Regions from separate parts of the Homo sapiens genome. Here regions 2, 3, 4 and 5 are each linked to region 1. The links come from fine-mapping of genetic effects on gene expression. A gene starts in region 1. Each other region holds a variant in brackets. All regions are shown on one strand. Distances are between the middles of the regions.

Region 1 (6,133 bases):
GAATGGGCAAAAACTGGAAGCATTCCCTTTGAAAACTGGCACAAGACAGGGATGCCCTCTCTCACCACTCCTATTCAACATAGTGTTGGAAGTTCTGGCCAGGGCAATTAGGCAGGAGAAGGAAATAAAGGGTATTCAATTAGGAAAAGAGGAAGTCAAATTGTCCGTGTTTGCAGATGACATGACTGTATACCTAGAAAACCCCATTGTCTCAGCCCAACATCTCCTTAAGCTGATAAGCAACTTCAGCAAAGTCTCAGGATACAAAATCAATGTACAAAAATCACAAGCATTCTTATACACCAGCAACAAACAGAGAGCCAAATCATGAGTGAACTCCCATTCACAATTGCTTCAAAGAGAATAAAATACCTAGGAATCCAACTTACAAGGGATGTGAAGGACCTCTTCAAGGAGAACTACAAACCACTGCTCAAGGAAATAAAAGAGGATACAAACAAATGGATGAACATTCCATGCTCATGCGTAGGAAGAATCAACATTGTGAAAATGGCCATACTGCCCAAGGTAATTTACAGATTCAATGCCATCCCCATCAAGCTACCAATGTCTTTCTTCATAGAATTGGAAAAAGCTACTTTAAAGTTCATATGGAACCAAAAAAGAGCCCACATCGCCAAGTCAATCCTAAGCCAAAAGAACAAAGCTGGAGGTATCACACTACCTGACTTCAAAGTATACTACAAGGCTACAGTAACCAAAACAGCATGGTACTGGTACCAAAACAGAGATATAGATCAATGGAATAGAACAGAGCCCTCAGAAATAACGCCACATATCTACAACTATCTGATCTTTGACAAACCTGAGAAAAACAAGCAATGGGGAAAGGATTCCCTATTTAATAAATGGTGCTGGGAAAACTGGCTAGCCATATGTAGAAAGCTGAAACTGGATCCCTTCCTTACACCTTATACAAAAATCAATTCAAGATGGATTAAAGACTTAAACGTTAGACCTAAAACCATAAAAACCCTAGAAGAAAACCTAAGCATTACCATTCAGGACATAGGCATGGGCAAGGACTTCATGTCTAAAACACCAAAAGCAATAGCAACCAAAGCCAAAATTGACAAATAGGATCTAATTAAAGAGCTTCTGCACAGCAAAAGAAACTACCATCAGAGTGAACAGGCAACCTACAAAATGGGAGAAAATTTTCACAACCTATTCATCTGACAAAGGGCTAATATCCAGAATCTACAATCAACTCAAGCAAATTTACAAGACAAAAACAAAGAACCCCATCAAAAAGTGGGCGAAGGACATGAACAGACACTTCTCAAAAGAAGACATTTATGCAGCCAAAACACACATGAAAAAATGCTCACCATCACTGGCCATCAGAGAAATGCAAATCAAAACCACAATGAGATACCATCTCACAGCAGTTAGAATGGCAATCATTAAAAAGTCAGGAAACAACAGGTGCTGGAGAGGCTGTGGAGAAACAGGAACACTTTTACACTGTTGGTGGCCTGTAAACCAGTACAACCATTGTGGAAGTCAGTGTGGCGATTCCTCAGGGATCTAGAACTAGAAATACCATTTGACCCAGCCATCCCATTACTGGGTATATACCCAAAGGACTATAAATCATGCTGCTGTAAAGACACAAGCACACGTATGTTTATTGCGGCATTATTCACAATAGCAAAGACCTGGAACCAACCCAAATGTCCAACAATGATAGACTGGATTAAGAAAATGTGGCACATATACACCATGTAATACTATGCAGCCATAAAAAATGATGAGTTCATGTCCTTTGTAGGGACATGGATGAAATTGGAAATCATCATTCTCAGTAAACTATCGCAAGAACAAAAAAGCAAACATCACATATTCTCACTCATAGGTGGGAATTGAACAATGGGAACACATGGACACAGGAAGGGGAACATCACACTCTGAGGTCTGTTGTGGGGTGGGGGGAGGGGGGAGGGATAGCATTGGGAGATATACCTAATGTTAGATGTCCAGTTGGTGGGTGCATCGCACCAGCATGGCACATGTATACATATGTAACTAACCTGCACATTGTGCACATGTACCCTAAAACTTATAATAATAACAAATAAATAAATAAACAAAACAAAACAAAAGTATCTTTCCACCTCTTGGATGTAGTACTGTCTCTGAAAAAAGGGGAAAGGCTTTGCTGGCGACAGCCTGAGTACTGACAATCTGAGTCTCATCTGGCTTCCCCCAATGTCATGGACTACTGTTCGGTGCCGAAGGCTTACTCAAAGACAGACGCATTGGAAGCCTCCAAAAGAAAACTTCATTCCGTTAAGTTCTACACATTGTGTTGCAGGGCTGAAAAAGCACGAGTGTCCGCACTATGACAAAAGAAAAGCGGCGTCTCCTCAAAACACCACCATGTTCCCCTATGAGTCTGGTGAGCCAAGACACTAAGAAACTGCAGGAAACGAGAGAGTTCTCGGGGTGGGGGTGTCCATGGATGAAGCACCGAACAAACTGGAGCCCGCAAGGTGAGTACGGGAAATGGGCTCTGTGGGGCCAGAGAGCTTCACCGACTTGGGGTGCGGGTACAGGGAGTCCACGGAGAGGCAAAGATTTGGGCTATCCGAGAGGACGCTCCCTCCCTGGGAGGGAGACCGGCAGGGCAGCTGGGAAGGGCAGAGACGGGAGCGTGATGGTGCGGCCGCCCTGGCCCCTCCAGGCCGGCGCCCAGCCACTCAACACCACCGAAGCCGCCGCTTACCTTTCGCGGGGTCACCTCCTCTCCTCGCCCGAGACGCCCCGCCCCGCTTCGCCGCCCCGCCTGCTAGAGAGAGCGGCGGAGGGCGCCCCGCCCGGCGCCACAGCGTCCCCTGTCTTCCGGAGGCTGCGGCGCAGCGGCGCGGGGCTGCGGGGACCCATCCAGTGCTAGCCTTTCCGGTTCTGAGGACCTCGCGCCCCTCCTTGGGGTCTGCGGGCTGAAGTGTGCAAGGGACGTTTTTGCTTTCTTCCCTTTTTGACCTTTAGTTTTCCACCTCCCAACTTCAAATTACGTTCCAGTTCGGTGTGTATGTTTGTATAAATAAAAGGAGACATCTCCTAGAAGTATGTTTATTTCATGAAAGTGGAAAGCATTCTGATTTGGGAAAGAAAGCTAGATCTGATTTCTTCCTACCCCTACTTTAGGGGAACAGTCATTTAAGTGTAGAGTTAATACTCTGCCATTACGTTAGGGCCTTGAGAGTCCAAGATGCAGGATGTATGCAGGTGCAGTTGAGACAAGAATAGATATAGGGATGCTGGTTTGCACATACTTTGCTGATGTTTAAGTTTGTTGGGATACACGTGAAAACTGATGTGGTTTGGCTCTGTGTCCCCACCCAAATCTCATATGGAATAATAGCCCCCTTGTGTTGAAGGAGGGGCCTGGTGAGAGGTCACTGAATCATGGGGCCGACTTCCCCCTTGCCATTCCCATGATGGAGTTCTCAGAAGATGTTTGTTTATAAGAGTGTAGCACTTCCCCCTTCACACTCTCTCTCTTTCTCTCTCTCTCCTGCACCACGGTAAGACGTGCTTGTTTCCTCTTCCACCATGATTGTAAGTTTCCTGAGGCCTCTGGAGCCATACCTCCTGTACAGCCTGTGGAACTGTGAGCTAATGAAACCTCTTTTCTTTATAAGTTACCCAGCCTCAGGTGGTTCTTTCTAGCAGTGTGAGAAGAGACTAATACAAAAACCAAAAATAAAATTCTAAGCACCACCATCACCAACCCACCCCTGAAAGGAATGGACCTCTGTCTTGGCCAAGGTAATCTCAAAAAAACCCTGAAAAATGAGTTCAGGCCCTGATGGGAAGGGGTGGGCGGTTGGATATGCCTCATTATACCTTCCTCCCGTTGGAGGTTAGACACAACTGACCAGCATTAACATTAAAACGGAGATCGTAAGACTGGTAAAATATACTGTAGCAATAAGAAAATTCCAACCTGACTCTGGAATAACATCACGTGACACATAGTGGGACCTGAAAGAAATAAAAATATGTTACCCCAAAATATATTTATTTGACTATTTTGAAATGGCCTCGCAAAGCTGTCTCTTGTTGGGGAAAACTTACATTCTATAGAAAATCTCTTTCCCTTACTAGATCTTTTTTTTTTTTTTTTTTGAGATGGAGTGTCGGAGTGTCACTCTGTCACCCAGGCTGGAGTGCAGTGGCATGATCTCGGCTCACTGCAACCTCCACCTCCTGGGTTCAAGCAATTCTCCTGCCTCATCCTCCCGAGTAGCTGGGACTACAGGTGTATGCCACCAAGCCTAGCTAATTTTTGCATTTTTAATAGAGACAGAGTTTCACCATATTGGTCAGGCTGGTCTCGAACTCCTGACCTCAGGCAATCCACCCACCTCGGCCTCCCAAAGTGCTGGGATTACAGGCGTGAGCCACTGTGCCTGGCCCCTTACTAGGTCTTTTCCAGAGAGTCTGACATCTTTTAAGGTCTGATAAGAGACATTCACATCTATTCTTTGAAGCCAGCTACCCGGAGGCTTTATCTACATAAGGAGAACCTTGGCTGCCACAACACCCCCGCTTACCTTAACTCCAGCTGGCTTCACATCTTCAGGCAGAGCTTAACTCTTTCAACTAATTGAAAATGTGAAAAATCTTTGAATTCATCTTTGACCTGGAAGCCCACCCCCACGCTGCTTTGAGATGGGCCAAACCAATGTATACCTTACATGTATTGATACATGTCTTTGCCTGTAACTTCCATTTCTCTAAAATGTATAAAATCAAGCTGTAGCCCGACCACCTTGGGCACATGTTCTCAGGACTGCCTGAGGCTGTGTCACAGGCCATGGTCCTTAACATTGGTGAAATAAACCTCTAAATTGATTGAGACCTATCTCATAGACTTTCTGGTTTACACAAGTTATATTAAAATGAACAGAATAGTTGGAATAGAAGGTACCAATATTTTGGCATGGGTTTATGTAAAGCTTTGGTAAATATGTTTCGAATTTAAAACTTTTTCTCCCAAGCCAAATTAACTTCACATTTGATTTGAGGTTTAATTTTTAAAAATTTTTAATATTTATGTGTATGTATTTATGGGGTACATGAGATATTTTGGTACAAGCATACAATGAATAATAATCACATCAGGGTAAATGGGGTATCCACCACATCGAGGATTTATCATTTATGTTACAAACATTCCAATTATACCCTTAGTTATTTTTAAATGTACAATCAACTATTGCTGACTGTAGTCACCGTGTTGTGCTATCAAATACTAGATCTTATTCATTTTATCTGACTATACTTTTGTACCCGCTAAAAATCCCCATTTCCCACTCCCCCCATCCCCACTACCCTTCCCAGCCTCTGGTAACCATCATTCTACTCTATTTTCATGAGTTCTTTTGTTTTAATTTGTATCTCCCACAAATAAGTGAGAACATGCAAAGTTTGTCTTCCTGTGCCTGGCTTATTTCACTGAAAATAATGTCCTCCGGTTCCATCTATGTGGTTGCAAATTGTTTTTTATGGCTGAATAGTACTCTGTTGTGTATATGTACCACATTTTCTTTATCCATTTATCTGTCGATGGACACTTAGATTGCATCTAAATTGGGTTATTGTGAATAGTGCTGCAGTAAACATGGGAGAGCAGATATCTTTTTGATGTGTTGATTTCCTTTCTTTTAGGTATATACCTGGCTTGAGGTTTAATTTTTAAAAGTTCATTGACAACTGGTATTACAAGGCAATCTTCTGACAAAATAAGTTAAATTTCAATTAAAAAGCTGTTACTGCAGTAGCTAAAAACAATTGGAAGGCTATAAAATATTATTATGTTGCATCCTAAGCAGACCCAAACTTTTTTCTTATCCCTTAGGGTTCTCAGTGATCTGTAACATGTCAAATATCACTATGGAAACAAAGTACTTTTACTGTCATGATCAATAGAAAGTGATCAGATGAAAGAATACAAGAAACATAAGCATGTGTAAGAAAAGAGCACAAGCTGTAGGTAAAGATAACAGAGAAAAGCCTGAAGGCCTTGCCCATTTCATGGATATGAATACAATGTGAATGATAGGACGTGTTTAGTCATTTTTGTTTATAATTCATTCCATTT
Region 2 (6,133 bases), 24 kb before region 1:
CTGAGCCCATACTTCAGCTTCTGCTTTCGCAATGTGTTCTCTGAGTATATCTTCTTGAAACTGCTCTTCTTTTTTCAGAATATTTGCCCCAATATCTGTGTATTTGAAGAGCAATGGTCACAAACCTCCACCGACTGCTTCCTGGCTTTCCTTTCCACCATTATCTAGTTATTTATGAGGGCTATTTAGGAGACACGTCCTTTTAGGAGATGCCAGTATATATATTTCAAAGATACCCATTGAAAGAGTAAGATTTTCTCTGATTAGGAGGGAATTCACAGCACTGTCAGGCCTGGATAGAGTTGGTCATTCCCCTCATCACACCCAGTCCACACAGCAGACAACTGGGGAGGTGAAATAAATGCCCGAAGAAAGGGACATATTTTGTACACCCAAAGTAGAATGATGAGTGAATATTCAAGAGGTCTTAGCACATTATACAGCTCTCTCTCTCCCTGTTCCTATTTGGGTGCTAGGGCTAGCATCAGGAGAAGGGAAGTGGAATGCCTTCACATTACATGCCTTTCTTTAGCATGTGGTTCTTTGTGGGTTTAACTGCTTCAGTATGGAGTGAGCTAAGGGGTAGAAGTTTACTATTTTTCTGTCAATGATCTAATTTGATTTCCAAATAATAACATTCCCATAATAATATCCTCTCTACCCAGACAAGGTAATAAAAGTCTAGAGAGGCTAGAGGACCACGCAATATCAGACAGCCAGGTCTTTTTCCACTGGGATTTCTCTTTTTTTTTGAGAGGGAGTCTTGCTTTGTAGCCCAGCCTGCAGTGCAGTGTCGCCATTTCGGCTCACTGCAACCTCCGCCTCCCGTTTCAAGTGATTCTCCTGCCTCAGCCTCCCGAGTAGCTGGAATTACAGGCGCCCACCACCATGCCTGACTAATTTTTGTATTTTTAGTAGAAACGGGCTTTCACCATGTTGGTCAGGCTGGTCTCGAACTCTTGACCTCAAGTGATCTGCCCACTTCGGCCTCCCAAAGTGCTAGGATTACAGGCGTGAGCCACCATGCCTGGTCTTCCTCTGGGATTTCTAAGCTGAAGGTAATAGATTCTTAGAGCTATCTGGATCCACATTCCTCCTTTCCCAGCTGCCGGAGTAAGTCTAGCTGCAGCAGTAAACCATTAAGCCAACTCACTAAAAGGGTAAGCATGGACAGATTGAAAGCCTTGATGCCAGATTTCCCTTGGGTTTCTCTGTTAAAAGAGTCAAGAAATTCCATTTCATGCAGTCTATTCTGAGTTATGTTTCTGTCACTAGCAATTAAAAGTATATGTTTGGCGGCACAGAGTCTCCTACTAGTTCATCAGCGAATCTTAAAAACACAGGGCAGCATATATTACGGTGGAGATGGACACATACTGCAAAAGCCCAACATTGTGTAGAAATAATTAGAAAAGATTTTCTAGGACAAAATGTGACTAAGCATGGACCATCAACGTATTGAACTTCATAAAAATGTGATACAAGTGTAGGCTATCACTATCCTCTTTTATGTTTAAATCCCATTGGTTTTATTAGTTGTTCTCAACCCTGATTGTACAACAGGATCCCTGCAAAGCTTTTTTTAAAAATGCACATACTGTAAAAGGAACAAACTATTGATAAACAACTTGGATGAATCTCAAGGGCATTGTGCTGAGTGAAGAAAGCCAATCTCAATGGGTTACATAATCTATGATTCTTTAGATAGCATTCTCAGTGATAAAATTATAGTGATAGAGAACAGATTAGTGGTTGTCAGGGGTTCAAGTTTGGGGAGAAGAGAGTGACAGCTAAGGGGTAACACGAGGGAGTTCCTTTGTGGTGATGGAACAGCTCCATGTTGTGATTGTGGTGATGGCACATTAATATACACACATGATAAATTTCATAAAACTCTATGCCGGGGGAAAAAAGTGTACATAAGGTCTGTACCTGAGTTAATAGTATTGTTTCAATGCCAGTGTTCCAGCTTTGACAAAGTGCCAGGATTATGTAAGATATCAATGGAAGCTGGATGAAGGGTACAGGGGAACTCTGATCTATTTTGCAACTTGTGAGTCTTAAACTATCTTGAAATAAAAAAGGTTATTTAAACGTGAAGGAAAAAATACACATGCTTAGTCCTGACCGTAGAGGTCCTAATTTAGTGGCTCTGTGTTAGATTAGTATTAAATCCAGTGGGTCTGTGTTTGGATATCTGTATTAATATTTTTTTTCAAAGTTCTATATAGTGCACTGCCAGGATTGAGAACTATCGTCCTATGAAATACTCACTAGCTCTTCTACGGACATTTCAAAATGCTTATAAAGAACAGACAATTTCAACTTTCTTTCTTTTTTAACTTAAAACAGTTCAATGACAAAGGTCACTGAATAGAAAAGATTAATTTCTAACAATAGATTTAACTTATCCACTTAAGGTTTGGGTTAGATATTCCATAAGGCATAAGGAATCAATCATTAAGGTATATCTAAGAATGGAGATACACTGTCCTGGGTATGAAAAGTCACTTTAGAGATCATAATGAATCATTCATACTAAGCACTTACTAAATGCTAAGAAACAATTTTGGAATTGATGTTTTTAGAAGATGATTCCAATTTGATCTCCCCCTACATTTTAGTTTTTTTTTCCAAACACCTCTGCTCTCCAGCTTCTTATATTTTCAAATATCAGGAGTGAAATGAAATCACCCTTAGTTTACCATTTTAAAGGAAGAGAGGATCAGAGAAGTATTGTGAGAGTTCTTAGGAAAATACCTACAAGGCTCAAGGTCAGACTGAAAACTCTTACGGGGATAAAAGAGAGATGGAAACCTATAGTACAATTTGATTTGCTTATTATATATACATACGTATGTACAGTAAACGTCCTCATGTTATCTATATGTATCTACTTTTATGCTACCAGCTACTATTTAAAGGTTATATAGTTTCTTTTACCCATTTATTAGGGTACTTTAAA[AT/T]TTTTTTTTTTTTTTTTTTTTTTTGAGGCAGAGTCTCGCTCTGTCACCCAGGCTAGAGTGCAGTAGCACGATCTCAGCTCACTGCAACCTCCACCTCCTGGGTTCAAGCAATTTTCTTACCTCAGCCTCCCGAGTAGCTGGGATTACAGGCGCATGCCACCATGCCTGCTTAAATTTTTTTAGTAGAGACGGGGTTTCGCCATGTTGGCCAGGCTGGTCTTGAACTCTTGGCCTCAAGTGATCTGCCCACCTCGACCACCCAAAGTGCTGGGATTACAGGTGTGAGCCACTGTGCCCATCCAATTAGGGTGTTATTTAGAGATAATATTTCCTCTCCTACACATACTGAAAGGTGCTCAAGTATGGCCAAGGGCAAAATGAACTCACATTTACTATTATGTGCCAGGATTTATAATAGATACAAATACTTCATTAAAGTCTCATAACAACCTGTAAGATAGGTATTAGTATATTTATTTCCACATAAGGAAACAGATTGAGAGGCTAAATACCCTGCCCAATACATACAACTGTAAGTGGAGAAGCTGTATTCCAACCCATATTCTCCTCAAATATCCCTGTAGGGACAAGCAACTCTGAAGAGAAAAAAGCTGATAAAAGTCTATGTAACAGAAAGAATGACACATAAGGCTATGAAGCATTAGAACAAAGGAAAACGATAAAGTCACTTACCTAGTATGTCTTTGTGAGTGTAAAAGCGTGTCTTAAGTGGCTTGTATTCATGGATCCGTTTGAAGGTTTTTCCAAAAGGGGCTGGTGGAATTATTTTATTACAAACAGCACAGCAAACAAAGTTTTTGTAATCTGAATTTCTGATCATAGTTAAATTTCAGATGTCTTCTCCTACTTACAGTTAAAATAATCTTAGAATCAGAAAAAGTCGTTTCAAGAAAAGCTGAAAGTTTAAGAAAGCTGGAAGAGGTTCAGGGTTTTAGGATAATGCTAGAGGCTGGTAAGGATTAAATGGTTCAAGTGATTAGGCTGTGGTTATGTGTCTAACGTTAAAGAATGGTGCTAAAAGCCCCTGCCATAGAAGGTATGGGCACCAGATTTGGGAAGATTTAAGTAGTTGCTCCTTCCCAGACTCTAGCATTAAGTTGTTAACTTACTTGGCAACTGTTGCTAGGTAAGACAAGCTTTGCTCATAAAAGCAACTTCAAATAATGACAAAAGGGAGCATGATACAGCCATTCATTTTCCTGATACTTTCTATATTAGTTTCCTATTGCTGCTGTCTTACTCTGTTTTCTGTTGCTTATAATAGAATACCTGAAACTGGATAGCTTATAAAGAAAATGAAATTATTTCTTACAGTTTATGGAGGCTGAGAAGTCCAAGGTGGAGGAGTTGCATCAGGTAAGAATCTTCTTGGTGGTGGGAACTCACTGAAGATTCCTGAGGTGGTATAGGGTATGACATGGCCAGGGGCTGAGCTCACATGCTAGCTCAGGCCTCTCTTCCTCTTCTTATAAAACCACCAGTTCTCCTCCCATGATAATCCATCAATCCCTTAACCCATGAATGAATTCACTCACCCCTTAAAGGCCCCACTTCTCAATACTACCACGTTGGGGATTAAAGTTCAACATGAGTTTTGCAGGGGACAAATATTCAAACCATAGCACCACTGTGACAAACTACACAAACTTCATAGTTTAAATGTAACACAAATTTATCCTCTTGCATTTCTGGAGATCAGAAGTCTAAAATGAGTCTTAGGGGCTAAAATCAAGTTGTTAGAAGGGCTGGTTCCTTCTGCAGGCTTCAGAGGAGAATGTGTTTGCTTGCCTTTTCCAGCTTCTAAAGGCCATCCATATTCCTTGGGGTCATGGCCTTGCATCATATAGCCTTTTCCCCCAGTGCTTCCATAGTGACATTGTCTCTTCCTCTGATCTTCTGCCGTGCTTTAAAGACCTTGGTGATTATACCAGCCCCATCTAGATAATCCAGGATAATCTCCCCATCTCAAAATCCTAAACTTACCCATATCCGTAAAGTCCCATATTTACAGGTTCCAGAGATTAGGATCTGGACATTTTTGCAGGGAAGGAGAGCATTAGTCAGCCTACCACACTTTGTTTTAAATTAGTTTTTAAAGAATTAATTTCTTTTAAGGCCAGCAATGGAGGTAGCTTAATTTCTTTTAGGTTTTTAATAAACATGATGTGTTGGTGCCATGGTAATAAAACTGGGAAATATCATGGTATCTTGAAGAAGAAATTACTTTCATTAAGGCAGCATTCAAAATTACTAAGCCTGGTTTTAAAAATCACATGGTTAACTAATTTGTTCCTATAATTTTAGATAAACAGCCATAGAAATTCCACCTATCGCAAAAATCTGTGCAACTGATTGTACCAAGTAACTGAATTTATAAAATTGCCTGACAATGTCATATGCTGCATCTACTTGGCAGGACTATTTTATAATAAGTGAGTGCCATCAGTGAAATTAATTTCAACAACAGGACTCCCATAGGGCCCTGAGCTAAGTGTACCACAAGTTACTCTATAATTTATATTAACACATACGGCCTGATAACTGGCTGAAGACCTTAAGTAACTATCAAATTGTGCCAGATTTGACTTCAAGAAAAGGGTTAACTGGGACTTGGAGAGGAATTAAAAACAAAGAGATGAATTAGTATGAAGAATGAGGATTACTGCATCCACACAGTTAATTATCTGGATTGAGAACTGAGGCTACTTGTGCCAATAACTTTCCTATCTGTTACTAGAAATTCTTGCCCAGATGGAAGGATAACTAACTGGCCTTGATTTGCCTGGGACTGTCCCTGTTTTAAAACTGAAAGTCCTGAACTTCCTTAGTGTCTGGCAAATTGGAAGAGTTGGGCCTCCTATGGAAGATAAGGCTGTAAAACCAATAAATACTTTCAGTGTTTGCCTTAGGAAATCCTTGAAAAACAATTTATCAATTGGACAGCTTGCTGATCTAGGCAAACAGCTCTTCCATCAGAAGATTAGACTACTCCCCTGGGCAAAGAGTTCACTTAACATTTATTGAACAATAGTTTACTAATCAAGACTTGCTTCAAGATCTAATCTGTTCTGTCAGGTACCTTGCCCATTCTCAACCAGATTCCTGCATTGAAAGACCCTTCTTTAATCACTTGAACTCAGACTTCC
Region 3 (6,133 bases), 86 kb after region 1:
GGGGTGCCTTTGCCCGGCCGCCCCTTCTGGGAATTGAGGAGCCCCTCTGCCCGGCCGCCACCCCGTCTGGGAGGTGTACCCAACAGCTCATTGAGAACGGGCCATGATGACGATGGCGGTTTTGTCGAATAGAAAAGGGGGAAATGTGGGGAAAAGATAGAGAAATCAGATTGTTGCTGTGTCTGTGTAGAAAGAAGTAGACATAGGAGACTCTATTTTGTTCCGTACTAAGAAAAATTCTTCTGCCTTGGGATGCTGTTGATCTATGACCTTACCCCCAACCTGGTGCTCTCTGAAACATGTGCTGTGTCCACTCAGGGTTAAATGGATTAAGGGCGGTGCAAGATGTGCTTTGTTAAACAGATGCTTGAAGGCAGCATGCTCGTTAAGAGTCATCACCACTCCCTAATCTCAAGTATCCAGGGACACAAACACTGCGGAAGGCCCCAGGGTCCTCTGCCTAGGAAAACCAGAGACCTTTGTTCACTTGTTTATCTGCTGACCTTCCCTCCACTATTGTCCTATGACCCTGCCAAATGCCCCTCTGCGAGAAACACCCAAGAATGATCAATTAAAAAAAAAATATATAAATCAAAACCAAAAAGAAATAAAAAAATAAAAAAATAAAAAAAATAAATACTTACTGAAAAAAAAAAACCAAAAAAATAAAACCTAAGGCACTCTTGCTGAGTGCTCATATGGTACCAAATTTATCTATTATGTATAAGGCAAGAAATTTACTTCCCCAATGTTATTACTATCATTAGCTTACTTTTTTTTTTTTTTTGAGATGGAGACTCGCTCAATCACCCAGGCTGGAGTGCAATGGTGCGATCTCGACTCACCGCAACCTCCACCTCCCAGGATGAAGCGATTCTCATGCCTCAGCCTCCTGAGTAGCTGGGATTACAGGCTAGTGCCACCACGACTGGCTAATTTTTATATTTTCGTAGAGACGGGGTTTCACCATGTTGCCCAGGCTGGTCTCAAACTCCTGACCTCAGGTGATACACCCACTTTGGTGTCCCAAAGTGCTGGAATTAAGGTGTGAGCCACTGCACCCGCCCAGCTTACTCTTAATATTTAAAAATATAAATTTGTGATTGCCTATGTGTATTTTTTCATATACATGCAACATACCAACTGAAACATCTGCTACATTCAGTAACACAGCAAACTTCATTTCTCATAGGCATACTAATGAAACAATTTTCATGGTGTACTTGGGATCCTTCATTTCTCTTATTTGCCACTAGATGGCTGTCTTGAAAAAATATGACATTAAATAGAATGCAGGAATAAGGAAGTCATATACAAAGTAGTAAATTACTAATTAAAATCATGAAAAGTGAAACATAGCCACCAATGAACAAGATTTAAAAATCCAAAGAAGCAAAATTCAGAGATTACCAGTATATTACCTATATAGGGACTATTCTCTATTGCTCTGACAAATGAGCAAAAATTTAAATACCAGAAAATTTAGAACTCTTAATAAAATATTTAAAACCAATTAGAATGATCTGTTTGCTAAAGACACATTATGCTGAATAAAGTCCCTTTGTAAAGCATAACAATTATTTCAAAGATGTAAATAATAATTTGTATGTTTTAAAATGGCTCTTTATGCCAACTATTCAAAAAATATAGAACACTATCAATATTTTATATGAATTTACGAAGTATACTTTTAAAAAGTATTGGCTGTAATCACATTTCAAAAACAGTTTCAGTTGGGTGCGGTGGCTCACGTGTGTAATCCTAGCACTTTGGGAGGCCAAGACAGGAGGATTGTCTGAGCTCAGGAGCTTGAGACCAGCCTGAGCAACACAGTGAAACCCTGTCTCAACTAAAATACAAAAAATTAGCCAGGCATGGCGGCGTGCACCTGTAGTCCCAGCTACTTGGGAGGCTGAGGCAAAATTAATTGAACCCCGGAGGCAGAGGTACCATGAGCTGAGATCACACCACTGCACTCCAGCCTGGGCAACAGAGCAAGCTTACTCTGTCTCCAAAAAAACAAACAAACAAACAGTTTAAAAAATTGATTTGCTTATCAAAATAATATTGCTTTCCATATAGAAAATAAATGTTAAACCTGTCATAACTAAGAAAATATAAAATCAAGAGTTAATCAAAATTAACTCTTGGGCTAGCAAATATTTAAGACTAATAATCTCTAAGAAGATATTTCACACTGTTTTTGGAAACATAAATTGCCATAATCTTTTCTGGAGGATAGTTTGAACCTATCAATTTAAAATGTGTTGATTCTTTGATCCAGCAATTTCACTTCCAGAAATTTACCCTACCAGTATACTCCCCACAAGGATACACGGATGTATGTAAAAGGCAACAATATAAGTAAGTGTCTACCAATCTGGTTAAAGATATTACAAATGCATACTATGGAATTATGTAGCCATGAGAAAGAATAAGGTTGATCTATATGAAATGATATGGAAACATGTCCACAATAATAGAGGGAAAAGGGACCGGCAACCAGGGAGTGTGTATGCGATTTTAAGTATTAAAAATGCATGTATGTGCATAGAAGAATGTCAGAAAGATTATATATCAAATTTTAATCTTAATAATAATTACCTAGTGGAGTATTAATTAGGGAAATGAGACAGCTACAGAGATACAAGATAGAAAGTTTTAGTTTTTAAACTTCTATATTTTAATGATAAAACAAATAGAAATATTGGATCTAAACTAGACACTGCTAACTTAATTTTTTACTACTATACCAAGAATCCAGACCAAAGTTCATTCCTTCCAGAAAGGCCAGATAAACACTTAATCTCTCCCAGCCCCATTCCTCTGCCATCTACCAAGGCTAGCTGCTATTTCTTTTCTTTTTT[A/TA]AAAAAAAAAAAAAAACAACCTATGGGGTATCAACTAGCTGCTATTTCTATCACACCGAAAGGGTCCTGGGAAACAGTCAATCCCTTGCCTCACTTGGACAAAGATTTCCTCAGAAAGATCACCACCAATCCAGGCCATTGCTGACTCCTTCTAACAAAGTCTGTTCCCACTGTCCTTTAAGGAACACGTAAACAAAACCAAACCTCAAATACTTGTAAGAAACAGGCAAGTAACGTACATTAATGAAGTGGACAAAGAGTAGGGTGGGCAAGTGAGAGAGCACATGGTGCACACCTCTTCTAAAGGGGGCAATGTCTCTGGGTTGGGGACAATAAATCTTAACTCACCTCATATGGAACAATGAATAAGTTTCTAATGTGTTTATAACAGAAACATTAAAGAGCAATCATCTCTAAGCAAAAAAGGACTTTTAACAAAGTAATGTTGTTACTTTGTAACAAGGGACTTTTAACAAAGTAATGTTACTATATATGTGTAGTGCTATGTAAGTGTAGACTTAACATCTATCTGTCCTGTTCTGCACTATATGATCTAGTTTTTTTCCTGGGATGGAGTATATAAACCTTAGTGAACCCTGCTTATGAACATGAAAAGTCTTAATTCTACCTGCTTAACATGAGAAGTGGGGGGGAGGGAAATAGTTCCATATGACACTGGAAGTACCCAGGGTCTTCACAGAATTTTCCTGATCATCTCCCAGAGTAGGCTGGACTGTTGTTACTCAACTCTGGATAATTAAACCAAGAAGGAACTTAGGCTCAGTATTGCAAGACTGGATTATTCAGAGAGCTAGAAATACAGATTTTTTTTTTTTTACTAGATTTTTACTTGAGACACAGATTCACAGTCTTCAACTTCAAAGCTAACCCAACAACTCTATGCTTAGATAGTCAGTTTCCTAACAGGAGATACGCTTCTTTAGTGAAGGGCCTACCCCTTATTCACCTTTAAATCCCACCTCCCCCAATCCCCCCCAATGCTTATACAGAAAAAATCATTCACTTAATACAAATCTGTGGAAGGGGAAGGGAGGTCAGATGAACCTTAAGGGCAGGGACTGAACTGATAATAAAAGCTTTCGTGGCACTGAAAAATATCTGAGAAGCAGCAGCACAATAACTAATGATTTTTTTAAAAATGTTACAACACGTCAAAGGTGATTTCAATAAATTTTATACATCTGCAAATTAACTTATCTAGTTATTTGGAACTAATAAGAAAATGTCAGTCTTCTATTTTGCTCTCATATATAATAGCAATTAAAAGGCCAATTACCTGTAATAAAATAAATAATAAAGAAAAAAATCTATAGACTAGTTGAAGTCCAAACTAATAGTGATATAGTATCCTAGGCTACAGACCATGGTTCCACTCCATCTAGCCTACAAACTGTCTGACATTACTCTTCCCACTATCCTCAATATCCTCACATAAGAAACCCAACAGGTTTATTTCTTATCTTGGTCCAAGCCTACCACTTGCCTTCCTACTTGTCTATTCTCAAGGAAAAAAAAAATCACACAATCATCATTACAAACCTCATGTGGCACTGAGCTTTCTGTATGAGGCTATTCTGCTTTGAGACTGATGACAATACCTAAGAGGATCATGCATGCTCTATTAGTTTACTTCTCTGTCTTATATCTCAATTTTTCCCTTAACATATCCTTATGTTTTACCTACAATCCCTTTGTTTTCCTCTCTATTGCTCTGGAGTCAAAGGATATGTTATTACAGATATAAGACACCCGTACACATTCAGTGCCCACTGAACACTGATCAACCTACTATAGGTTTTCTTTAAAAAAAATTTTTTTTTTTTTTTGCGACAGAGTCTCACACTGTCACCCAGGCTGGAGTGCAGTGGCATGATCTTGGCTCACTGCAACCCCCACCTCCCAGGTTCAAACGATTCTCCTGCCTCAGCCTACCAAGTAGCTGGGATTACAGGTGCCCGCCACCATGCCCAGCTAATTTTTGGTATTTTTAGTAGAGAGAGGAGTTTCACTACGTTGGCCAGGCTGGTCTCAAACTCCTGACCTCGTGATCCGCCCGCCTCGGCCTCCCAAAGTGCTGGGATTACAGGCGTGAGCCACAGGCACCCAGCCAATCTAGTATAGTTTTATCTAAATTCTTTAAATATACACGCCCTGTTTCTTGATCAACAACTTCTAATTCTCCTACCCTGTTTCCAACTTCCTTTTGAAATTGTAAGTCCCTCAAAATGCAAAATTGCAAAATTCCCATTTGGATCATGATTCCATTCTCAGAATTTTGTAGTCATAAACTATACAAATATGTGAATACTATGCTTTATACCAAACTAGAAGTGAAAAGACAATGTCTCAGAGAGAAAATAAGGTTTTACATTAAATAGGCAAATAAATACGTACTCAAAATGATATATAGCATAGATGTGCATATATATATTCTATATAGAATTTATATGACAAAGTATTTCCAGAGATAAGTCACAAAAATTCTATAAAGTTACTTAAATTAGCCAGTTTAAAAGATGTGCAAGTATCTTGAAGTCAGACAAGATTGAAGTTAAGGCCAAAAGCTGACAAATATAGATATTTTACTAAACTGTTAAGCCACCACTATCTTTCCCACAATTTAGCCAAAGCATTTAAAAGATGTATATTATTTAAAACAGAAACTAGGTGCAATCAGTTTACATATAATTCTAAAAGCTACTTAGAATCAAGTTGCCACCACTCAAGAACATACCAAAAATGTAAGATTGACAATGATCTCTTCGCTATCTAAGAGAAAAGGAAATCAAAGACATTCTAATTAAAAATTAATTTCTCAACTTAAAAAATAATTACTAATGAAAGAAAACATACTCACCTCTTCGATTAACTTTCCATTTGGTGATGATGTACAAAGACAGACAAGGTAAGTTTGCTTAAAACTACCTTTTATGCCAATCTCTGGATGGTCAGAACACAGCTTTGCTAGAGCAGTTGCTTGACTTAACTGATTTGTTTTGATTAGATGTTTAATTCTCATATCCAACAAGATGGGACCCTCAAAAGCTAAAAATTCATTCACTTTAAAAAACAAGACATAATAGATTATTAACATTTGGTAATAATTCATTTGCAATACCAACACTTATAAGAAATATTTTTAAACACGGGAACTAAAATGCTTTTTTTCAATTTTCTATTATTGCTAGTAAGGCTATCACAAAAGACTTGACCTTATAAGCAAGAAGAGATTATATTGCTAACTT
Region 4 (6,133 bases), 120 kb after region 1:
TTTATCCCTATATATACATATACCTAAGATAGTTTAATTTGTAAATTAGGCACAGTAAGAGATTAACAAAAATAATAAAATAGAACAATTAACAATATTCTGTATTAATGAAAGTTATGTGAATGTGGTCTCTTTCTCTCCCCCCTTACTGTATGTAATACTTTTGTACCAGGGTAACTAAAACCACAGAAAACAAAATCATGGATGGGGCGGGGGGAAGGGGAAATATTGTAATCAAAATGCAACTTGAGGTAAAGAAGAATCAGTATCTCTTTACGACAAGGAACAGAAGGAAAGCTCTTTAATGTGATAGAGGGTATCCAGAAAAACCCATAGCAAACTACATTCTGGGAGTATGAAATGTTAGAAGCATTTCCCTTTAAAGTCAGAAAACAAAACAAAAATGCCTATCACTGCTTCTATTCAAAACTGTAGGGCTAATCAGCACAATCTGAAAAAGAAATAAAAGCAGTAAGAACCAGAAAGATAAAATAAAAATGTCACCATTGCAGACAATGCACACGTAAGAACTTCAAGAGAATTCAGTATAGTAGTTAGATATAAGATCCATACACAAAATCAACTGCAATTCTATTTTTTTAAAAAAGCAGTTAGAAACTATAATTTTTAAAAAGATAACATTCACAGTAACAAAACTCGTGAAGTACCTAGGAATGAATCTAACAAAGTATTTATAAGATCTTTTCAAAAAAAAGTATAAAACTTTATTTAAAGAATAAAAGGAAGGGTGCATAAATGGAAATACCACATACATAGATAGTGGAAGACAAGTTAAAGATGACAATATGAGCCATATTTAAAAAGTCAAAGCAATGCCAATGAAATTCTCCATAGGATTATTTACAGAATTTGACATGTTGATTCTAAAAATCATTCAAAAGGCCAAATCAATTTTGAAGAGCCAGGTTTTTGAATTTGGAAGATTATCTGCCCTAATCAGATAGCAAGACTTATCCCAAAGCTATAGAAATTAAGACAGTGTGATTTTGTTATAGACATAGATGACAGAAATGAAAGAGCTTTAAAACAGAATTACATATATGTGAGAGCATGGTATATAAAAAAGCCCCATCAGAAACCAGTGAGGAAAGTACAGACTATTCCATAAATAACCTGAAACAACCATTTAAACAGGAAAGAAAAATTATAACTATTCCCAGCATATAACAAAACTATATCCTATATGGACAAGTAACTGAATGTGAAAAGCAATACTTTAAAACTTTAGGATGAGGCTGGGTGTGGTGGCTCATGCCTGTAACCCTAGTACTTTGGGAGGCTGAGGTGGGCGGATCACTTGAGGTCGGGGGTTCAAGACCAGCCTGACCAACATGGAGAAACCTCGTCTCTACTAAAATACAAAAACTAGCTGGGTGTGGTGGTGCATGCCTGTAATCCCAGCCACTCGGGAAGCTGAGGCAGGAGAATCGCTTGAACCCGGGAGGCGGAGGTTGCGGTGAGCCGAGATCATGCCATTGCACTCCAGCCTGGGCAACAAGAGCAAAACTCCGTTACAAAGAAAAAAATAAAACAACAACAACAAACTTTAGGATGAAAACATAGGAGAACATCTTAAGACCTTAGGGCAAAGAAGGTTTTCTTAAGACAGAAAATACACATCATAATGGAAGATAATAATAACTGCAGATACAATAGAATTAAAAACTTCTGTTCAACAAAACCCCATAGAAAATCAAATAAAAGGCTACAAACTGGGAAGACATTTTGTATCTCATATTCGCAAATAATACATAGTGCCATATGCATAATACAAAATTCATAATATAAATATAAGTCTACCTCGGAATCTCAGGGTTGAGATTGGTCCACCACCATTTTTACTTCTGAGTATGTTGCCTTTATATCATCTCTCTCCCAAATTGTGAGAATTCAGGAGAATCTCTTACTTGTGATGAAATCCAATAATCTTATTTCCACATTGTTCTGGTTGAGACACTTGTTTCCCCATATCTCAGGCTACCATCCCTGGCAAACGGCCCAGTGCAGTAGTTATTTCAGTAGCAGTTTAGCATTTTCAAAGAAAATCAATTATGAATTTAACATGATTCACATTCCCATATATACTCAATGCTAGGATGTGAAATAACCATTCACAAAACTGAGTTTCTGATAGCTTTGAATCCCTAAATAATCTCCAATATGGATGCTATAACACAATCTCCAGACTTTCTGAGAATTCTAAAACTTCTGGCTCCAGGGCCTACTCTCTTTGTAGCATTCTGATGGCACGAACCAATCATAATCCCAAAACCTCCCTATTCCCTAGCCTGACATGGTGTGGCCCATAATTTCTCTGTTCTTGCATATTCTTTGCTATAAACTAGGCTTACAGAAGCAACCACATTGATGCCTTGGCACAAAGGGTTTCAATCTTGGAAAAACACGAGCATGTTTGATGCTAACCTAATTGCTAAGAAACCTGACTTTAATGGGAGCAGAGATTTTTTTTTTAAATGTCTAGTACATAACATAGAAAGGGAATGTTTTTAGGTTTCATCCACTGAATTAATTCTCATAATGCTATGTAACTGTTTCTCCGTATAAAACACTCTGAAAAGGACAATTCTGACTTCAGCTTAGTCTCCACAGTATTTCTGGCTTTGAACTTACTTTCCAAAAACACTAACACAGTATGTCTGTTTGATCTGTACCTTTACATTGTGACTCCCATAGTCAAGCAGTCATAATGAAGGTAAATACATGGCTCAAATCTGAAGTGAAGACTTTAGCCCAACATATAGCTAAATATCATGTGGGAGGTCCAAAATTCTTAAGAGTAAACCCCCTTATACAGAATATAACCCCTAGTAACTTCAGAGACCTACAAGCCCAGGATGTACATAATTAGATTCAAAGAAGCAGAGTCTAGCTGCCATAAATAATTATAGCACGAGCCTCAATCTCAACTTGCTGGGGATAAGCCAGAAAGGCTGCCACAGTCTACTGTGTATGTCTATCATGGGCCAGTTGGCACACACAATACATCCTTACTTCAGAACATGAAATACAATGGTAGGAAACCCAGCTTTAAAGGTGATTGATTCCTTTAATTTCTATATTCTCTAGTAACTGCTCTGAATAGAAATAAAATTAAACAGAAATAGGTTTTCCCTTAGTCATTTATACTCATTGTATAAGTGACTTTTTGATGAAAAAGAAATTAAAAACATTTTCCTAGAAACAAATGTTAATATAGGCTGAACCAGAGGGCATGTGATCCATTCTCAGCGCAGGAAATGGTACTGAGACAACTGAATATCTACATGCATAAAAATGAAATGAGATGCTTACCTTGCATCATACAC[A/G]AAACCCAAAATGGACCATACTTAAATGAAGAACTAAACCTATAAAACTTCTTGAAGAGTTCTTCGAACACCAAACATGATCTATTTTTATAAAGTTCATAAATTGGACTTCAATTCATCAAAATAAAAAATTTCTGCACTTCAAAAGACCCCATTAAAAAATGAAAAGCCAAGCCATAGGCTGAGAAAAAAATGTTTATAAATGATACATCTAACAAAGGGCTCATATCCAGAATACATAAAGAACTACTACAACTCTAATAAAAAGACAACCTGGTTTTTTAAAATGGGCAAAAGATTTAAATGGACAGTTCACCAAAGAAGATAAATGGCTGAAAATGCACATGAAAAGATTTTCAATATTATTAGCCATTAGGGAAATACGAATTTAACTATGAGAAACCACATCCACTAGAATGGCTATAATTTTAAAAAGACAATATCAAGTGTTGGTGAGTATACAGAGAAACTGTAACTCTCATGCATTGCTAAGGAGAATGTAAAATGGCACAGTCACTTTGGATAGTCAGTTTCTTAAAAAGTTAAACATAAATTTACTATTCAAACCAGCAATTCAACTCCTAGCAATCCACCCAAAACGAATATAAGCTTGTTGGCCAAAAGAAAAGTATATGACTGTTCACAGCAACACTATTTATAACTGCCTAAAACTAGGAACAAGCCAAATGTCCATCAATGGTTTGAATGGATAAGCAAAATGTAATAAATCCATATGGCTGAATATTTTTCAACAATAAAAAGGAATGAAATATTTGATAGCTTTTATCCCATTTAGTAAGAATATTCATGTATTCTGCTGTGTTTATGAGACGCAACCCAAGGACCCTTTGAAGTTATTGTGTAATACAATATATGCACCATATTCTTTTTTGAACGAAGAACATTTCTGAATTCTGATTCACATCTGGCTCAGTTTCAGATAAAGATTGCAAAGTTCACAGAGAATAACTTCCCCAAGTCTAATATATTTAAGTACTTCGTATCTTATAAAACCTATTTTAAGTCTCATCCATTTCCCAACTACAAAGCAGTTCTAATGTTAATATTTTCTAAAATGACTAACATGGAACACATAAACATGCAATGGGCCGGGCGTGGCTCCTCAGGCCTGTAATCCCAGCACTTTGGGAGGCCCAGGCGGGCGGATCACGAGGTGAGGAGATCAAGACTATCCTAGCTAACACAGTGAAACCCTGTCTCTACTAAAAATACAAAAAATTAGCCAGGTGTGGTGGCGGACGCCTGTAGTCCCAGCTACTCGGGAGGCTAAGGCAGGAGAATGGTGTGAACCCGGGAGGCGGAGGTTGCAGTGAGCTGAGGTCACGCCACTGCACTCCAGCCTGGGTGACAGATCGAGACTCCATCTCAAAAAATAAATAAATAAATAAATAAATAAATAAATAAATAAAATAAACATGCAATGGTGACTTGGTTATGTCAGGATTTAAATTTTAAGCTAATTGGTGTCATCTGTTACACAGATCTCTAGCTATCTGAATTTTCTCTCCAACTTATCAAATTTATAGAATCAATTTGAAACTGATGAAAAAGAAAATACCAATCAGTATCTATTAAACATTGCTTAAAACAGCAATGATTCAAATCATATTACTTTTATCTTCAGGAAAAATTAACTACATTTCAGAGAGACCTGTTCTTAAGATACATAAATATTCTTAAAATAGAAATGATCTGAAAATCCCTTTAACTGTAGCAACTTCATAACCCAGAATCAAAGACTGAAAACACCTACTGTTGAAAGCTAGAAATGAATGTACTTCTTTCAACTAAAACAGATACTTCTTAGATAAAAAATTGAAACTAACTCAGGCTCTAATGAATGCTTTTTTTTTTTTTTTTTTTTTTTGAAACAGCGAGTCTCACTCTGTTGCTCAGGCTGGAGTGCAGTGGCATGACCTCCGCCTCTGGGGTTCAAGCAATTCTCCTGCCTCAGCCTCCCAAGCAGCTAGGCTTACAGGCATCTGCCACCAGGCTCAGCTAATTTTTTTTTATTTTTAGTAGAGACGGAGTTTCACCCTGTTGGCCAGACTGGTCTCGAACTCCCGACCTCAGGTAATCCACCCGCCTTGGCCTCCCAAAGTGCTGGGATTACAGGTGTGAGCTACTGTGCCCAGCCTTACTTAATGCTTTAAAAAAAAAAAAAAAAACCCAAATGTTAAAAATCTGATATTCTCAAATTGTACTCAGGTTTCAAAAACATTTATGGTACTACCTAACCTACTGCAATTAAATGAAATACTAAATTTTCTGCTATGGGATAGATTTCCAGAAGAGCAACTGCTAGAATATAGCAAACAGATATGCTATTTTACTAACACATTTACTGGCCAGGTTTATTTTACTGGCCACATTGCTTTCCCAAAAGGTTGTTTTCTCATGTCCACCAAAGTTTGAGAGTGCCTTTCTCTGTATTACCTCTAGCAAGAAGTCATATACAGCCTATTAAATTCTACAGTTTCTCTAATTTGCACTTCTTTAACTAATAATGAATCTGACCTCCTTTCTCATTTGTTGGACATTTGGATTTGTTTTGTCTGTTGCTCTATCACACTGATGGTCTCTTTTCTTGTCACACTGCAAGAATTTAATATATTACAGAAATTTACCTTTTGTTCATCAACAGTTTTAGAAATAATTTTCTGGATCTATTGTTTTCCCTGTTGGCTTTGTTATTTTTACCATAAAAATTCATTTTTATATTATGAAATATGTCCGTCTTTTTATGCTTTCTGGGAATAATACAA
Region 5 (6,133 bases), 110 kb after region 1:
AGCCTCAGTTTCCTCACCTTTAAAATGGGGAAAATATACCTATCCACACAAATTTTCATGAGGATTAAATGATATATGTGAAATTCTTATAAAGCACATTGAAGACTTTCAGAAACCAGTTTAACTGTTTCTAAATCCAAATGAGGGCACTTTCTTTTGTGTTCCCTTGCTGCTCTTACAAAGCCCTAATTATCTGATCATAACGATTATTCAATCTATCTAAATGTATATATACATTTAGCAAACATTTGTTGAGATCTACTCTATGTAAGATACTAGTGTCAATAAGATCAGTAATTAATGTCTGTCATTATTGAGATGTCTTAAAGTTTAACTGAATAATTTTTTTAAGAGTAAGGAAAACTGACATAAGATATACCTGTATTAAATCTAAAGATAAAGATTCTCACCTGCACCAGTGTCTGAAATTGTTCCCACTGTTTATCTGATAACTCAACAGGCAGACACAGTAAAAGTTCAACACAGCTTCTAAAAAACAAAAAGTTGGTAAGGAGAGGAATAATTATTAAAATTCAAAGGAAATTATAAAACCAGTAATTCTAGTATCATAAGCAGACTCCCCATAACTAATCTATTTAAAATTAAACTATAAGACTTGAGATTTAATGTTGTGTGTGTGTGTGTGTGTGTGTGTGTGTGTGTGTGTGTGTGTGTGTGTCTATGTATTTTTAAAGCTAAATCTAGTTTATTTACTCAAAGGTCTACTCACAATGCCAAGCGTTCCAGAACCAAGGCTACATTTTCACATTCAGAGGTAAGATAAGGTCGGGCTTTAACATAACTTTGGATAGCCACTGTGTATACCTCCAATAAAGGTAAAGGATCTTCTGAAGTTTTCCATTTCTCTGCATATTCTAGGAGTGTCTGTTTTGGAAGGAATAATAAAAAGTATTCAAAATGTAAATCAAAATATACATTGACTCATCAGCTGTTTTTTCCTGAAAAATTTTGAAAAATACAGATTTTTATTTATAAAAACAAAAAGTAGTTTATATTGATTAAAATATTAAATGAAATAAAGTCATAGTCATATTTTTGGCAGCTCTCTGTAGGAGAAAAGATTAGTATTAATTCATCCAGCAACAGCATAATTTCATCAAGGCTAGTTTTAAATAGGGCAAGAGTTATCTCCTCTATTCCCTAGTAAGTTTTAAAAGTTATTTTAAAAAGACATCTGAGCAAGTAACAGTTGACCAGGCATGCAGTGAAGAATTTGAAATAATATCTGTTTTCTATTTCTCGTAGAAGCAGCAGAAAATTCAATATTGAACAACAAAATAAATCATGTATGGTCAGCAAAGACGTGTCCTTTTTCAGTCCATAAAAAAATAACAGTACATACAAATTAATAATTTTTTGACAAGCACTAGCAATTAAAAAGTCATCCAAAGACTTTCAACATATAAAAATCAACATTAAAGATATTAAAGAATTATTATAAGGTTAAGTAATTTTTGTAATAGTGTTTTTTTAATTAAAAATATTTCTCATCTTTCAATTAAGTGAATATTTTAAATTTACCTCATCAGAATTACTTTAAAAGATGCTATTTATCTTACTGAATAAGAGATGGGAGATAATGGAAAGATAAGTTATACAGAAACACACATGTTAAGACTCTTACCTAAAAGGTTCTATAGTTATGCTAAATGAAGAGAGATTCTAATTAAATGTTTTTATAACACAGAAGACTGCCACAATTGGTCCTCTCCACACTTCAGGGTTTAAGACTCATTTAATCAAACATATGGAAATTCAGGTTTCTTTTCCTAGAAAATAGGGTATTGAAGGAAAAAAAAATTTCCTGAGGGCCTGTATCCTCTGGCATACAGAAGCACTTTTAAAAACTGGAGGGAGGGAAGGGGTGGGGGGGATTGTATTCTACTACCAAAGCACTTACTACCTTGACCTCTCTACTAACTTCCAACTAACAGAATTAGTAAGTGATTAGACGAAAGCAATAGAAAAAGTAAGCTGGTAAACTAAAGGGCAACAAAATAACTACTCACCGACTGAGTAGCCATATATTCACAGACCTTGGCTCTCAACTAATCCTTTCCTTTCCTTTCCCCCTAAGAAGTGAGGGCAAATACTGATTGCTAGAGACAGAAAGGACAGAAAACCTGCAGCCACAGTGCAGGATGTAGGATGGGGTGTCGGGGGATACTCAACTAGGTCCAAAACCAACTCCACAGCAAAATTTCTCAGTAAAGTTGAAGTGGAAAAACGTGTTTCTCAGATATCCAGGAAAAAACACTGCAATCTTTCCCAGATGAACCCTGAAACAAATTTGCTCTCATCCACACTTGCACCTCACCTCACAATCCCATTATATCCCAAACCTTCATGGTACAAAATAGATTCTACGTGAGGATAAAAACAACCAGAGATAAGTTCCTTAGCTCAATCCACATGAAACCCAAAGGTAAAGCTATTCCTGATCTTTTAAGTTCCAAGCAGGGACAGAGATGCTGGGGAAGAGGGGAATCCATGTTTCTGTACCCTCTTGGCATTGTTAAATGTAATGATGAACAAATGACATTGTAGCTGGTCATGAGATGAAGCTGCCTACATTATACCCAAGCTGCCTACATTATATCCAAGATTATTCAGCTTCGATGTAAACACAGAAATTAAAGCCTTTTATTTGCCTAATCATGTCACTATTATACATATAATCCCAATCCAGAGACTCACTTTTGCAGGTGCTGGGGCTCAGAAACTGATACCCCAAACTGTGGCACTTTGACATGCTGAAGAAGCAGCCTCAGAGTCTCTCCGACCTTCCCCTGTTTCTTCCCATCTCTTGATCCTCTTTCTCGCAAAACACAGTATGAAGTTGTTCTGTGAAGTTTCCTTATCTGTCTAAAGTCCAGGCCCACCAAAGAAGAAGAAAATTACCTTTGATCCTGTTAAATATAGTGAACCCCAAGTTTCTCTTCAAAGAATCAGTATGTCAGTATGTTCAGCTCTCTTATTCTTTGATTCTCCATTTTAAAGTTTAGCTTCCTGGTTCTCTTCACCCCCTTGCTTCTAAGTTTCAGTAAACAACTTTCCCACCAGTCCTAATCAGTAGTTCACATCTGTTCCCTGGTCACCTGGTCCATCCTGACTCATCCCGGTCACCTGCTTTACCTGAGTCACCCCTGGTCACCTGCTCTGACCTAAGTCACCTTTAGTTACCTGTTTCTAACCATCCTTCCCGCCAAACTACTCACCCTACCACTCTGGCTCATACCCCCTGCTCTTTTTAAAATAGCCAGTTGGAATTAGCTTAGACTGTGCGGGCCAACCCTAGCCAATACAGGAATGACACAGCAGTAGGGGATACCTGCGTCAGGAACAAGAACTCCTTCCCCTCCCCTGTCCGGGTGTGGTCTCACCATTGTTCCATCTGCAAGGAGCACCCTTTCC[G/A]CAGAAAGTAAAAATTGCCTTTCTGTGAAAATTAAATTTATGTTTGAGTGCTATTTCTTTGTGGCACCGGGAATAAGCATTTCTAACAGTCCCCTCCCTGAGTTTTCATTAACTGAACTCATAGGGCAGGAAGACGGAAGTCTGTCAACACACCTAGCCAGACTTTTGTCACAAACCACTGAATGCTTAGCAGGCTCAATAGACTTTGTCCCAGGCCACTGTATGTTCAAGTCCATTGAATTCCCCTAAAAATAATTTACAACCCTCCTCTAAAATCACCCACATTTCCCCACCTCCCTTTCATTAATAAATCTGTATGCCATTTCTCCTATTAATCTGCTGTTTGTCAGGTGATTTTCAGTGAACCTTCAGAGGATGAAGGGAAGTTTTCTTTTGACCCCTACACAGAAGAATTCTTAACTTTCTTCTAAACAGCCCTCAAATAAAGAAGAACTTATATTTCTTATGGATCTGAAATGGTTATACTCTCCAATCTTTTGACCAGCTAGATGATTCAGAGGACAATGACAGAGAACTATGGACTGCTAGAAATGAAAACATTCTCTTGCATGGTGATTTTGATTAGAGCAATTAAAACCTGGGATTAGTTCCTGGTTGAACCAACATGAACTAGGAAAGATTATACAAGAAAATTTGGAATTCAATGATGCAACCATTCAATCAAAAGGGATGTTAAGATTCATGACCAGTCTTTGAATTCAGTTTGTGCCACTGGCAGGCATACAAGTATGGTATAATAAAAAATAACTGGTCTTTGTCCTAGGTTCTTAGCACAAAGCTCCTAAAACCCTTGAAATCTACGTAAGTGTCTTTTTCATGTTAATGAGATAACATTAGGCTGAGGAGCTTCTAGATAGCTTTAAGACAGGGACTGGTCACTACAAAGACCATGCCATGATTAGAGAGATGGAACTTGTAGCCCCACCCCCCAGTCTTGCAGGAGGTAAAGGGGCAGAGATTGAACCCAATCACCAATGGCCAATGATCTGATCAATCATGGCTATGTACTCCACAAGACCTCCTAAACAACAGTAGTCTAAGAGCTTCTGAGTTGGAAAACACATCCATGTGCTGGGAAGGTGGCACATCCCAACTCCACAGAGACAGGCTCTGGTGCTTGGAACCCTTTCAGATCTCACCCTAGGTACTTCTTCATCTGGCTGTTCATTTGTATCCTTTATAATACCTTGTAATAGTAAGTATAGCATTTTCCTGAGTTCTGTGAGTTATTCTAGCAAATTACTGACCCTGAGGAGGGGGTTGTGAGAACCCCTAACATTGTAGCCAAGTTGGACAGACTTGGGGACCTGGTACTTGCGACTGGCATCTGACCAAAGTCCTACACTTTTTTCCCCATTAAACCAATGGTTTTTGTTACGACACCCCTTCAAGAATGAATGAATGTCTATACACATATATTTATATTTATACACATATGAACAGACAAAGATAAATGTCACTGTAATCTGGTTTGAAGATGAGTTGGGGGGAGATGGCATAGAGGGGAAAAGACAAGGAACAAAACCTAAATGTCTTCCTGCAATGCACCATATTGCTTCCATTAATGAGTAACCTGTAAGAAAAATATGGTAAGAAAATTTAAAACTGTTTTTTGATGAATGACTGATGGAACTAGGGATGCTTTATCTGGATACTAAATAATATTTACTGAATATTTACCATGTGCTAGGCGTTGTTCTAAGAGCTTTACATGTACTACCTATTCAGTAATTAGGTAAATTATAGTAATATGCTTATATTAAAAATTAACTAACCAAAAGTAGTGAAATAAAAAGCCATAAGACCACAGAGCTAGGAAAGGCAGAGAAGGGATTCAAATCCTCATAGTCTGACTTCAGAGTGTTCATTCTTAACTACTATGTGATACATTTCTGGAGAAATAAAAATTGACTTGTAAATCCAATTTTTAAAATTTGGATTAAATTTTAGATTAAATTAGCCAAATTCACAAATCTAGAGGCTTGTCACATAAGAGAGGAGTTAATTTTATTCTGTGTGTCTCACAGGTCATACCAGGACCACTAGGTTGAAGTTTAAAAGAGACACTTTCCTGTTTCCTATAAGACAGAACTACCAAACCATTAGAGTAAACCAAAAACAGAACAAGTTGGCCTCCTGAGACAGGTGGTGGCCCACGAACTGAAGTTATTCAAAGAGGAGCAAGATGATTCAGAGTTGAGGATACTGAAAGGAGTCATATATTAAAGACACACTCCACCATACCAGAAGGGACTACACTAGTGAGTATATGTGTGTGTTCATAAACTAGTGGCTCATGGATGTTTTGATGTGCACATTGTTCAAAAAGTATTTGAATTAGTTTCTAATATTTAGAAGTCATATATTTTACATAAAAACTTGGGTTTCTGGCTTTTCTTTTAAAACAAAAAAAATTGGCAACTTTGGGCCCACATCCCAGCATGGCAACTAGCTAGGGCTGAGTGATGACCCAAGATCTCCCACTGAGATCAGACACAGGCTCTGTGGGTGCTACATGCCTCACCTCATTCTTTGTTTGTTTGTTTGTTTTTGAGACAGAGTCTTGTTCTGTTCCCCAGGCTGGAATGCAGTGGCATGATCTCGGCTCACAGCAAGCTCCGCCTCCCGGGTTCACGCCATTCTCCTGCCTCAGCCTCCCGTGTAGTTGGGACTACAG

Which allele goes with the higher level. Positions count from the first base shown, and alleles are read on the strand shown. Sizes are in standard deviations (SD) of each study's normalised expression. Not every link is listed here.
For the expression in macrophages after interferon gamma of the gene that starts at base 2,794 in region 1, allele T in region 2 goes with a higher level than allele AT (large effect, 1.0 SD a copy in Alasoo 2018).

Evidence for each region. PIP is the estimated chance that this variant, and not a neighbour inherited with it, causes the effect. A credible set is the group of variants that fine-mapping cannot tell apart.
Region 2: its variant is the best candidate, but not a certain one, in a credible set for the expression of SMIM8 in macrophages after interferon gamma (Alasoo 2018, PIP 0.54).
Region 3: its variant is the best candidate, but not a certain one, in a credible set for the expression of SMIM8 in monocytes (Fairfax 2014, PIP 0.55).
Region 4: its variant is the best candidate, but not a certain one, in a credible set for the expression of SMIM8 in blood mononuclear cells (TOPMed, PIP 0.66).
Region 5: its variant is the best candidate, but not a certain one, in a credible set for the expression of SMIM8 in T cells (TOPMed, PIP 0.63).

What each region holds. Positions count from the first base shown.
Region 1 is chr6:87,319,249-87,325,381 of GRCh38, reverse strand. SMIM8 (small integral membrane protein 8) reads right to left here and starts at 2,794. Exons shown (of 4, transcript NM_001042493.3): 1 at 2,750-2,794. GJB7 (gap junction protein beta 7) reads left to right here. Exons shown (of 3, transcript NM_198568.3): 2 at 2,339-2,516. RefSeq lists a silencer at 2,683-2,972.
Region 2 is chr6:87,342,774-87,348,906 of GRCh38, reverse strand. It overlaps C6orf163 (chromosome 6 open reading frame 163), which reads right to left and starts at 4,094. Exons shown (of 5, transcript NM_001010868.3): 1 at 3,660-4,094; 2 at 1-95. The coding sequence starts at 3,807. The variant AT/T (reference allele first, on the strand shown) is at 2,966.
Region 3 is chr6:87,233,140-87,239,272 of GRCh38, reverse strand. ZNF292 (zinc finger protein 292) reads right to left here. Exons shown (of 8, transcript NM_015021.3): 5 at 5,746-5,948. Among named protein-coding and RNA genes, the nearest start is that of ZNF292, 81 kb to the right of the region's middle. The variant A/TA (reference allele first, on the strand shown) is at 2,868.
Region 4 is chr6:87,196,825-87,202,957 of GRCh38, reverse strand. The region is part of intron 1 of ZNF292 (zinc finger protein 292); the gene reads right to left. Among named protein-coding and RNA genes, the nearest start is that of ZNF292, 44 kb to the right of the region's middle. The variant A/G (reference allele first, on the strand shown) is at 3,348.
Region 5 is chr6:87,210,655-87,216,787 of GRCh38, reverse strand. ZNF292 (zinc finger protein 292) reads right to left here. Exons shown (of 8, transcript NM_015021.3): 2 at 731-885; 3 at 411-489. Among named protein-coding and RNA genes, the nearest start is that of ZNF292, 58 kb to the right of the region's middle. RefSeq lists enhancers at 2,413-3,612, 3,656-4,407, 4,408-5,161, 6,122-6,133. The variant G/A (reference allele first, on the strand shown) is at 3,436.